Linked DNA regions of Homo sapiens: region 2 is linked to region 1. Evidence: fine-mapped expression QTL. A gene starts in region 1. The other region holds a variant in brackets. All regions are shown on one strand. Distances are between the middles of the regions. Region 1 holds the start of GTF2IRD1 (GTF2I repeat domain containing 1). Region 2 overlaps GTF2IRD1 (GTF2I repeat domain containing 1).

The links. PIP is the estimated chance that this variant, and not a neighbour inherited with it, causes the effect.
Region 2: its variant is fine-mapped to the expression of GTF2IRD1 in tibial artery (GTEx, PIP 0.99).

What each region holds. Positions count from the first base shown.
Region 1 is chr7:74,451,037-74,456,398 of GRCh38, forward strand. GTF2IRD1 (GTF2I repeat domain containing 1) reads left to right here and starts at 2,870. Exons shown (of 27, transcript NM_005685.4): 1 at 2,870-3,140. RefSeq lists an enhancer at 1,166-1,685 and silencers at 2,571-2,920, 3,423-3,492.
Region 2 is chr7:74,478,381-74,483,742 of GRCh38, forward strand. All of the region lies in intron 1 of GTF2IRD1 (GTF2I repeat domain containing 1), which reads left to right. Among named protein-coding and RNA genes, the nearest start is that of GTF2IRD1, 27 kb to the left of the region's middle. RefSeq lists enhancers at 1-115, 116-698, 1,959-2,008, 2,059-2,108, 2,119-2,168. The variant G/T (reference allele first, on the strand shown) is at 2,240.

The DNA of each region.
Region 1 (5,362 bases):
GCCTGGCCAACATGGTGAAACCCTGTCTATACTAAAGATTAAAAAATAAATTAGCCCAGCGTGGTGGCGCGTGCCTGTGATCCCAGCTACTCGGCAGGCTGAGGCAGGAGAATCGCTTGAAACTGGGAGGCGGAGGTTGCAGTGAGCCGAGATCATGCCATTGCACTCCAGCTTGGGTGACAGGGCAAGGCTCCGTCTCAAAAAAAAAAAAAGAAAAGAAAAAGAGAAAGAGGCAGGGTGGGAGACGACCTGGGTCTCAGAGGGCCACACAGGAGGGTGCCTTGAGATGTCCCAGACCTCCTTACAACAGGAGGGTGGTGAAGGATGGAGGGAGCATTGGTGACTTCATTCCCAACCCTGACATGGCCCAACATCCTCTGTGGGCATGAGGGCCCCTCTGCGCCCTGCCTTGTGCTGGGCACTGCAGATGTGGCCTGCCTGGGAGGAGCTCTCAGTCTGATGGGTTTGTGGGTTTCCTATAGGAGACCTGGTCAGCCAAAGTTAACCCTCACCAAGTTCCTGGTGTGTGTCCAGAAGAGACCCCAGTGTAATTGTCTGACGGGTGTTCCTGCCGCTGCACAGGAAGAATTCACTGAGACCATGGTATTACAGCGAGAAATAGTTTTATGTTTCTTAATTTTTAAAATTTTTTAGACAGTCTTACTCTGTCGCCCAGGCTGGAGTGCAGTGGTGCGATCTTGGCTCACTGCAACCTCCGCCTCCCAGGTTCAAGCGATTCTTATGCCTCAGCCTCCTAAGCAGCTGGGATCACAGGTGCCTGCCACCACGCCCGGCTAATTTTTGTGTTTTTAGTAGAGACAGGGTTTCACCATGTTGGCCAGGCTGATCTTGAATGCCTGACCTCAAGTGATCCACCTGCCTCGGCCTCCCAAAGTGTTAGGATTACAGGCATGAGCCACCGTGCCTGGCCTAATTTTTGAAACACAGTCTCACTCTGTCACCCAGGCTGGAGTGCAGTGGCTGAATCTTGGCTCACTGCAGCCTCCACCTCCTGGGTTCCAGTGATTCTCATGCGTCAGCCTTCTGAGTAGCTGGGATTACAGGCATGCACCACCACACCCGGCTAATTTTTGTATTTTTAGTGACCAGGTTTCGCTGTGTTGGCCATGCTGGTCTTGAACTCCTGACCTCAAGCAATCCACCCACCTTCGCCTCCCAAAGTGCTGGGATTACAGGCATGAGCCACTGAGCCCAGCCAAAAGCGTCTTATTAATGCAGAGCTAGCCAAGCAGTAGGACTGGAGTTATTACTCAAATAAATCTCCCCAAGAACTCAGAGGCTAGGGTTTTTATGGATAATTTGGTGGGCAAGGGCCCAGGGAATGGGTACTGCTGATTGGTTGGAGATGAAATCACAGGGGTGTGGCAAACGGTCCTTATGCACTGAGTCGGTCTCTGAGTGGGGGCCACAGGATGGGCTGAGTCATGAGTCACACAGGTCCAGGTGAGTCAGTCGGTTGCCCGAATGCGAAAGTCTGAAAAACATCTCCAAAGACCAATCTCAGTTTCCACAATAGAGATGCTATCTATAGGAGGAAGTGGGGAACTCACAAATCTTGTGATCTCTCGCCACATGACTCCTGAGCAGTCAGATTATAAAAACGATGCGTAGGTTTTAGCAGCGTCCAGGCCCCTCCCATAATCCTAATCTCACGGCCTTTCGTTAGTTTTACAAAGGTGGTTTTGGTCTCTTGTATAAAAAGCAGGTTAGGTTTAAGGAGTAACTATTATCATCCTTGTTTCAAAGTTGAACTATAAACTAAATTCCTCCCCCGGTTAGCTTGGCCTATGCCCCGGAATGAGTGAAGACAGCCAGCGCGTGAGGCTGGAAGCAAGATGGAGTCAGCCACGCTAAACTTCTGTCACTGTCCTAATCTTTGCAAAGGCAGTTTGGCCAGGAGGCTGTGGGGAGACCTTGTGGGTTTTGCCAGGACCTGGGAGATTCTCGATCTATGTTTGGCTGTCCTTCTAAGCCAGAAGCTCCCTGGGGTTGGGGCCTGCCTGGGGTGAGTCCCTCCCTCCCTGCCATGCCCAGTCTAGCCAAGGTCTAGTTCAGGGATCAGGGCACCACGTGGGGGAAGGACTGTGTTCCTTGTGCTGAATTAGGATTTATGGCTTTGGGGCCGGATGGGAGGCGTGCGCACTGATTCAGTAGGAGCGCTGCTGTGGTGTGTGTGTGGTTGGTGGGAGCGGGGCGGGCGGGGGGCGGGGGGGCTGGTTGGGGGGACAGGGGTAAAAGCCTATCAGAGGGAGGTCCCATCAGACAAGATGGGACCAAGAGTCCAGTTGGCTCTGCTGCGACTTTCGGCCTGTCACTGCCTTCCTGCACATCTCAGGGGTGGGAGGGGGACAAAGGCTGTAAGAGTAAGAGGTACCTGGCCCAAGCCTTAGGACTAGAACCCGGGCCAGGCGGGAGTGACCAGCCGGGACACTCAGGGCCTCCGCGCGTTCCAGCTGGGTGACCTTGACCCTCCAACTTCAGCCCCCTGCGCCCGGCTGCTCTCCCAGTGGTGGTGGGGAGCGGTGGGGGTAGACGGGGGCGCGCCCAGGCTTTTCTAATCCGGCGCTGGTGGGGGAGAACCGAGGGCGCCACCGCCCCTCCCCGCAGGTCCGGGGCCGAGGGGTGCGGCGCGCTCTCCCCACCGCGGTGCCCAGGTCCCCGGGACGCAGGGGCGCTGGGTAGCAAGGGGGGTGCGCAGGGGCGCGGGGCGCGGGGCGGGCTAATCCCGTATGTAAATGGCAGCCAATGGAGGGTGGTGTTGCGCGGGGCTGGGATTAGGGCCGGGGCGAATGGCTGGCAATCTTACTGGGATTACAGAACAAAGAGCCTCCCCGCGCTCCCGCTCTCCGCTCCTCTCCCCGCGCCGCCCCGCCCTCCGCCGCAGCCCGCGCCGGGGGTGGGGGCCGCCGAGCGCCAGCCCCCCGGCCGGCCGATTCCCCCCCCGCGCCCCCTCCCCGCGCCTCCCTCCCCGCCCTCGCCGCGCCGCCGTCCTCGCCTCCCTCTGCCTCTCCTTCCCCCATTCTCCCGGATTAATTAAGGAGGCAGCGGCAGGAGGCTGAGTCCTGGCCGCGGGCCGGGGCCGGGGCGCCGCTGGCAGGAGCGCTTGGGGATCCTCCAAGGTAGGAGAAACTTTTGCGGGGGGCGGGCACCGAGGCCCTTCTCCCCTTCTCCCCCACCCCCGCCCCCGATCCCCTCCGCCTCCGGGGGGGGGGGTCCCCGCCCCTCCCCCTCTCAAGGTGTTACAGGAGCTGGGGCCGGCTTTTGGGTGCCCGGGGAGGCACGTGACTGGGATTATAATTCGGGCCCGGGGGGAGGGGAGGGACGGCCGCCCCCCACCTGCCCGGGAGGGGCCGGGAGCTGGGAGCTGTCACCCCCTCCCTCCTTGCCACCGGCTCTTCTGGAGGTGGGGGGCGTCCCGGGCCGGCGCCCGCAGGCTGCTGCAGTTGGCGAATGAGGTCAGTCGCGCTGCCCGCGGTGGCGGGCGCCGGGGTGGGAGCAGAGGGGGCTGGGAAGGCCGCGGTCCCCGCCTTTCCCCCCTCCACCTTCTCCCGGTCTGGGCCAGCCCCTGGCCCGCGCCCCCAACTCCCAGGCGGAGTCCAGTCCAGCCAGGATTGCCCCAGCAGGGTGGTTCCTGTAGTGGACCCCCCGCCCCGGCCCCGGGGAGGGGGCTGGCCTGTGTGGTGGTGGCCGCTGAATCCCGGGTGGAGGGGACTCAGAAGGTGGCAGTGGGGGGACCACAAAGGGTTCAGAGGAGTAAGTTGGGGATACTCGGTCTGTGGGTGGTCTCTGAGTTCCTGCAGATGGGTGGAGAGGACAGAGGAGGGGCCACAGGGTGCTGAACACCCACCCGCCCCATCCTAAGTACCCTGGGCATGATGGGCTTGACACCTCTCCTGGGCTCCTCACCCCTGGCCAGCAGCCAGGGAGTGAGACCCTGCCTCGCCTGGCGTGGGCCCAGGGAAGGGGGCCGCTGTGCCGCTGAGAGTTCGTTCCACCCTCCTGGCAGTGCTGGAGGGGGCTGGAGCTCTGGCGTCTGGCCTAGTGACCCTACCTCCCAGGACCAAGGTCCTGCGGTGGGAGTCTCCTGTGTCCCCATCCCAGCTGAAGCGAGGGTGCTGGGACATAGGGGTCTCGCTGCAGGGCCTGTGAGGGGAGCACTGACTCTTGGATGGAGAATGTGCCAAGGGGTACCCCGGGATGGCCCTGGGCCTGGCGGGTGGGAGTGGAGGGCAGGCCCCCGCAGTTTTTGGAGAAGTGGGCATTTGCTGGGGTTTCTCTTAGAAGAGGAGAGGGGTGTCTAGAAGCCACCCTGGCGCGCCGCTGCCATGGTCGGCCTCTGTGTGTCTGGCTGCCCCGTGGCCAGGACTGTTGACTCCTTGGCACTGGCCCGGGGCCTTGGGACTTGGAAGGTGCCCCAAGCAGCTCATTTATTTCAGCAGTGTCATTCCAGAGGGGAAGGGCACCAGCATCGATTATTTATTCTAAGCAGGAGGAGGTGGCTGGAGGCTGGTGGCTGCTGGCAGGGAGGGGCTAGGTATAAGGTAGTTAGGTGGCCGTCATGAACCGCCCTATTTGGGGCCCAGGAGGGTGTGAGATAGACTCTGACCTCTTCTGAGCAGGCATCTGCGGACCAAGGGACAGGCTTGGCCCCAAGGTGACAGGGTATCGGAACCCCCATCCTGCCTCTGGGGTGTGGGAGGCTCAAGTCCACACCTCGTTCTTCCACAGCCTGTTCTGAGGGTGACCTAGAAATTGGCAGTTCTAACTCAGAGGGTCCCACAGGACCCCACAGAGGAAACTAGGAAGGAAGGGTTGAAACTCCGCAGCCACTCAGAGCCTGCACTCTTAAAATGTTCGAGAACTTAAGGCCGATGGTTGTAAAACTGGGTCTTGAAGACAGCTTTGTAGGGGGCACGCTAAACCTACTTAAAAGGACTGTTCTCTCGATGTTGGGAGAAGGGTCATTTATTTGCAGTATGCTAATCACAAATAATTTTTATCTGTTCATTGAAGGCAGCCTCCCAGGAGCCCGGCTAGCCTTCTGATGAGGTGGTAGTCGTCAGCACTTGGTGTTTGGCAATAGTCTGAGTGGCAGCTGTAATCTAGGGTCTTGGAGGTAGCTGTTTTTGCAGCCTGCTTGACTCCAGAGGCCAGGCCATCCACGGTTTGGTGACAGCTTGGTTGTTGGACCTGGGGTCTTGTGGATGGTGGGTGATGGCTTGGGACATTCACGTCCTAAGCATGACCTTGGAACCATAGACTGCAGCTCCCAGATGATTCTCATTCAGGGTCTAGTCTCTGACCACTCACTGCTTCCTCAGCCGACTCATAAATCCTGTAG
Region 2 (5,362 bases), 27 kb after region 1:
CTCTCACAGAGCTGAGAGCAGTAGAATTACCATCACCCTTTTGCTCAGTGGGGAGAGGAAAGTTTGAGCATTGTGTGTGTGTGTGTGTGTTTAGAGACAGGGTCTTGCTCTGTCACCCAGGCTGGAGTGCAGTGGTGCGATCATAGCTCACTGTAGCCTAGAACTCTTGGGCTCAAGCGATCCTCCCACCTCATCCTCCTGAGTAGCTGGGATTACAGGCACATGCCACCACGCCCAACTAATTTTTATGCTTTTAGTAGAGATGGGGTTTCACCATGTTGGCCAGGCTGGTCTCAAACTCCTGGCCTCAACTGAACCACCCACCTCAGCCTCCCAAAGTGCTGGGATTATAGGCATGAGCCACCAGCCCCACCTTTTTTTTTGAGATAGGGTCTTGCTGTATTGTCCAGGCTGGAGTGCAGTAGCGTGATCATGGCTCACTGCAACCTCTGCCTCCTGGGCCCAAGCAACCCTCCCACCCCAGCCTCTGGAGTAGCTGGGACTACAGGCACATGCTATCACACTAGGCTAATTAAAAAAAAAAAAATTATAGAGATGGGGTCTCACTATGTTGCCCAGGCTGGTCTCAAACTCCTGGGATCAGAAACCTGGTGGTCATTCCAGGTGCCTCCCTTGGGACCCCCCGTCGCCAGCTCCTGGTCCCAAAGCTCTGCCCCGTCCTCCATCCCCTGCTGCTGTCTGCTTCATGCCTGGCTGTCTCTGGCCTGGGCTGTCGCAGAGACTTGGCAACTCCTGGCTCCCCAACTCCAAGCATGACCCGACAGTTCCTCCGCCGTAGCTTCCTGGGATCCCCCTCACTGCCCACGTCTCACCCCTGCCCCACACCCTGCAGCGAGGCTGACCTTCCGAGATCCTTGGCCTCACCCCAATGGCCACGCTGGTCTCTGCCCACCACTTCCTGCCCTGCCCTGCACACTCCAGCCATGCAGAGCTGGATTTGTTCCCCACCCACCCACCCACTCCCACAGCCTCTGGCCCCGCTCAGGCCCGACCAGGACACGTGGGCGGCCCAGGCTGGCGGTTGGGTTTCCTGGGCAGCCAGTAATTTGGCACTCCTTCAAACAGGTCTTTATTTATTCAGCATTTATTTCTAGGGGAGGTGGGTGCTGCGGTGGGGCAGGGAAGGCGCCTCCCTTGTAGAAGAGCAGGGCCTGGGCACAGTGCCTGTCTCCCCTCCTCACCTGCAAACGCCAACTCCCCTGGGAGGGTCCCGGCAGCTCAGGTGTCACCTCCTCCAGGAAGCCCCACCCTGACTGCCTCACCCGCCGTCCTGGGCTTCTTCCATGCCACTTATTTTTATCTTTCACTGAAGCATAATTTACTTCCAGTAAAGTACATGAGTACATGAATCTTTTTTTTTTTTTTTTTTTTTTGGAGACAGAGTCCTGCTCTGTCATCTAGGCTGGAGTGGCGTGGTCTTGGCTCATTGCAACGTCCCCATCCTGGGTTCAAACAATTCTCCTGTCTCAGCCTCCTGAGTGGCTTATAGGCGCGTCCACCATGCCCAGCTAATTTTTGTATTTTTAGTAGAGACGGGGTTTTGCCATGTTGGCCAGGCTGGTCTCAAACTCCTGACCTCAAGTGATCTGCCCGCCTCGGCCTCCCTAAGTGCTGGGATTACAGTCGTGAGCCATCGCACCCAGCCCAAGTACATAAATCTTAAGCATCCCGTGTGATGAATTTTCCCCCGACTTGTATACTCATGTAACCATCACTCAGCTCAAATCCTTGCACTGTGTTTTAATCTTTTTTTTTTTTCCCAGTAGTCTATTTTTTTGGTCATTTTCCCTGCCAGCCTGGGAATCCTTCAAGGGCAGGAGCACCTGCTGTTGGGCCCTGTGCGGTGTGGGACACAGTGTGAGAGAGTATTGGTGCCTGTGAGCTGGTGGCTGTGTCCCCACCCCTGTGATTGTCCCCACGTGTGTGTGTGACGGAGGCTGTGGCCGTGGGAACATGTGGATCTGTGAGCCTGGCCAGGGGCCCCAGTGCAGGGGCAAGCGCCCCCTCCTCCACTGGAAGAGAGCCTTGTCCGATCCCCCAGCCAAGGGCCTTTGCAGGGAGCCGTGGCCCTGCTGGAGAGTCCCCGCCGGCTGACAGCCCGGAGATTAGTCTCCAAGGCCACAACGCCAGTTGCCATAGGCACGCAGGCCCGCGTCAGGACTGCGATTTCTCATCCTGGTCACGCAGGCAGGCGGCCGCCCCTGCCCGCCTGCCAGGA[G/T]CCAGGCTCAGGCTTTAAATAACAAGGGTGGAAACCTGAACCGCGGAGCCGTCTGCCCGGCGGATCCTGGCCTCCCCTCCTGGTAGAGCAGGCATGGGGCGGCCTGGACCCCGCATACTGCCGGCGGCGGCGGAGTCCCTCCGTGCCCGCCCCGGGGGACGGGAGAGAAATGGAGAAACCTGAGTTTGGGGGCTCTCTTTGAGTGCTCCTAGTACCTGATGCACAGCCCGAGCTGAGAGGAGACAGCCCCTTTTCCTAAATCCCGTCCTCCACGTGGAGGAAGGACGCCCTACCTTCCAGAAGCCTAGATGAAGGGCAGATGGGGCTTCGCATGGCCAGGCCTCAGATCGGCTTCCCCCAGCCCCTCCAGGGAAGAGGCAGGCGGCTCCCTCACTTCCCCTTGGAAGGCAGCATGAATCCCTGTACTTCCTGGACTGCCCCTTTGCCCCCGCCTGGGGCCAACTTTCCTGTCATGGGGTGGAGCAGCTGTGTTGGATGGTTGGTTTTGCTTTTTGTTTTGCTCTATTTTTTATTTAAAAGGAAAATTTTTTTAGAAATGAGGTCTTGCTCTATCGCCCAGGCTGGAGTGCAGTGGCGCAATCCCAGTTCGATGCATTCTTGAACTCCTGGGCTCAAGCCATCCTCCCACCTCAGCTTTCTGAGTAGCTGTGACGACAGGCGCGTGCCACCACGCCCGGCTCATATTTTAAATTTTTTGTTAGAGATGGGGTCTTGCGATGTTGCCCAGGCTGGTCTCAAACTCTTGGCCTCAGGCAATCCTCCTGCTTCTCTGGCTCCCAGAGTGTTGGGATTACAGGAGTGAGCCACCACGCCCAGCCTGCTTTTGTTTTTAAAGGATGAGGTTTCTGTTGTTTCTTTCCAAATTGTAAAAGTAATACTTACCTTAGGTGACTTAGAAAATACAGAAAAGTAGAGGGAAGCAAAGTCAGGCATGGATCCCACCCTGAGATGCACGGTCTGGAGTTTGCATCCCGGGCTGCACTGTGTATGCCCCTGAGGTCATCCTGTCCAGTGTTGGAATCAGCCTCTGCTGGGCATCAGGTTGCCTGCACCTACTCCTTGTTTATATGTGGGTGTGTGTATCTGTGGATGTACCAAGTGAAAGCTTTGGGGAAACATCTTTGCATGTAAATCTTTGCATTTGGGATAATTAACTCAGGATTAATTTATAGAATTATAAGTCCTGGAGCGAAGGGTGGGAACAGAGTTAAAATTGAACTTCCTGAAACACGTCACAGCGTCACCAAATCGCTTGGCTGGGAGGACTGTGTGCACCCAGGGCCCTTCTGTGGGGTGGGCCAGGATTTAGTGTGAAACTCATGGCTGCTAGGCTGGGAAGAGCTCGACCACAGGTGTGGGGTTTTGTCTCCAGTGACATTCCCAGCTGGCTCTTGCAGCCCCTGCCCTAGTGACAGCATGGGGTGAGGGGGCCAGAGGAGGCTGGAGGTGGAGCCCTGCCTCTAGGCGGAACTGTACCATCTGTAGTTGCAGGGCAGGATTAAAAAGGGACAGTTTTGCTGTTTGTTTGTTTGTTTTTTTCTGTCATCTGACTGGGTGTCCCAATACCTGATGTCTCCTAAAACTTTTTTTTTTTTTTTTTTTTTTTGAGACGGGCCTCCTTCTGTATCCCAGGCTGGAGTGCAGTGATGCAATCTCGGCTCACTGCAGCCTCAACCTCATGGGATCAAGTGATCCTCCTGCCTTAGCCTCCCGAGTAGCTGGGACGACAGGCATGTGCCACCACACATGGCTAAATTTTAAATTTTTTGTAGAGTCAGGGTCTCTCTGTGTTGTCCAGGCTGGTCTCAAATTTCTGGGCTCAAGTGGTCCTCCTGCCTCAGCCTCCCAAAGTGCTGGGATTACGGGTGCGAGCCACTGTTTCTGGCCTTATGCACACTTTTCATTGAGAACAAAGTTATTTGTTGTAAGAGAAACACCTTGATAACTGTTCACACACTAAACTACCCAGGTAACCAGCACCCAGATCAAGAAACAGCATTGACAAGCCCCTCTCACCCCCTTCCAGTTACTACCACTCTCCCTGACCCACCACGATAACCGCCGTTCCATCTCCTGGCTTCAGAATGTGGCCTCCTTTTGAACCTTACATAAATGGAATTCTACCATGTGACCTCAGATTCTTTCATCATCCTTGCGAGATTCCACCGTGGTGTTGCGTGTCTTTGTGGTTTGCTCATACGTCTGATGCCTTTTCCAATAGACGGGGCACCCAGGAGGAGTCAGTGGAAACACATGTACCGTGGAAACAGATCAGGTCTTGCGCTGAAATTCGGATACCTCTGAATTACTGCCCATCGTCAAAGAAATAAAGTTTATTTCCCTAAAGGATGTTTTGTGGTGAATAGGAAAGAATTTGCAATCAGCGTAGCTGTTAAGCCCACAGGAGAGCAAGTTGTATTATGTTGTGAGCCTGGGTTGGGTGTGCAGAGATCTGGGGTTCAGTCTGACGCCTCTGGGCCGTGGTTTCCCTAGATGGACATGCAGGTGGTTAGATGAGGGGCCCATCTAGCTCAGTGCTGTGATGCTAAGCATATACTTCTCAGTGCTAAGAGGTTGTTTTCCAAAGTGTTTGAAGTTTGCTCTTAAGATCTTATTTAGGCCGGTCACAGTGGCTCATTCCTGTAATCCCAGCACTTTGGGAGACTGAGGCAGGATTGCTTGAGCCCAAGAATTTGAGCCCAGCCTGGGCAACATAGCAAGGCCCCATCTCTAAAAAAAAAAAAATTTTTTTTTTAATTAGCTGGGCATGGTGGCATGTGTCTGCAGTTCCAGCTACTTGCGAGGCTGAGGGAAAGAATCGCTTGAGCCCAGGAATTTGAGGCTGCAATGAGCTATGATTGCAGCACTGCACTCCAGGCTGGGTGGCAGAACAAGACTGTCTCTACAAAAAAAATTTTTAAAAATCAGGCATGGCAGCATGCACCTGTAACCCCAGCTACTTGGGAGGCTGAGGCAGGCGGATGGCTGGAGTCCAGGAATTTGAGGCTGCAGTGAGCCATGATCGTGCCACTGCATTCCAGCCTGGGTGACAGAGCGAGACTCCATCTTTACAAAACATTTTTAAAAAAATTAGCAGGGAGC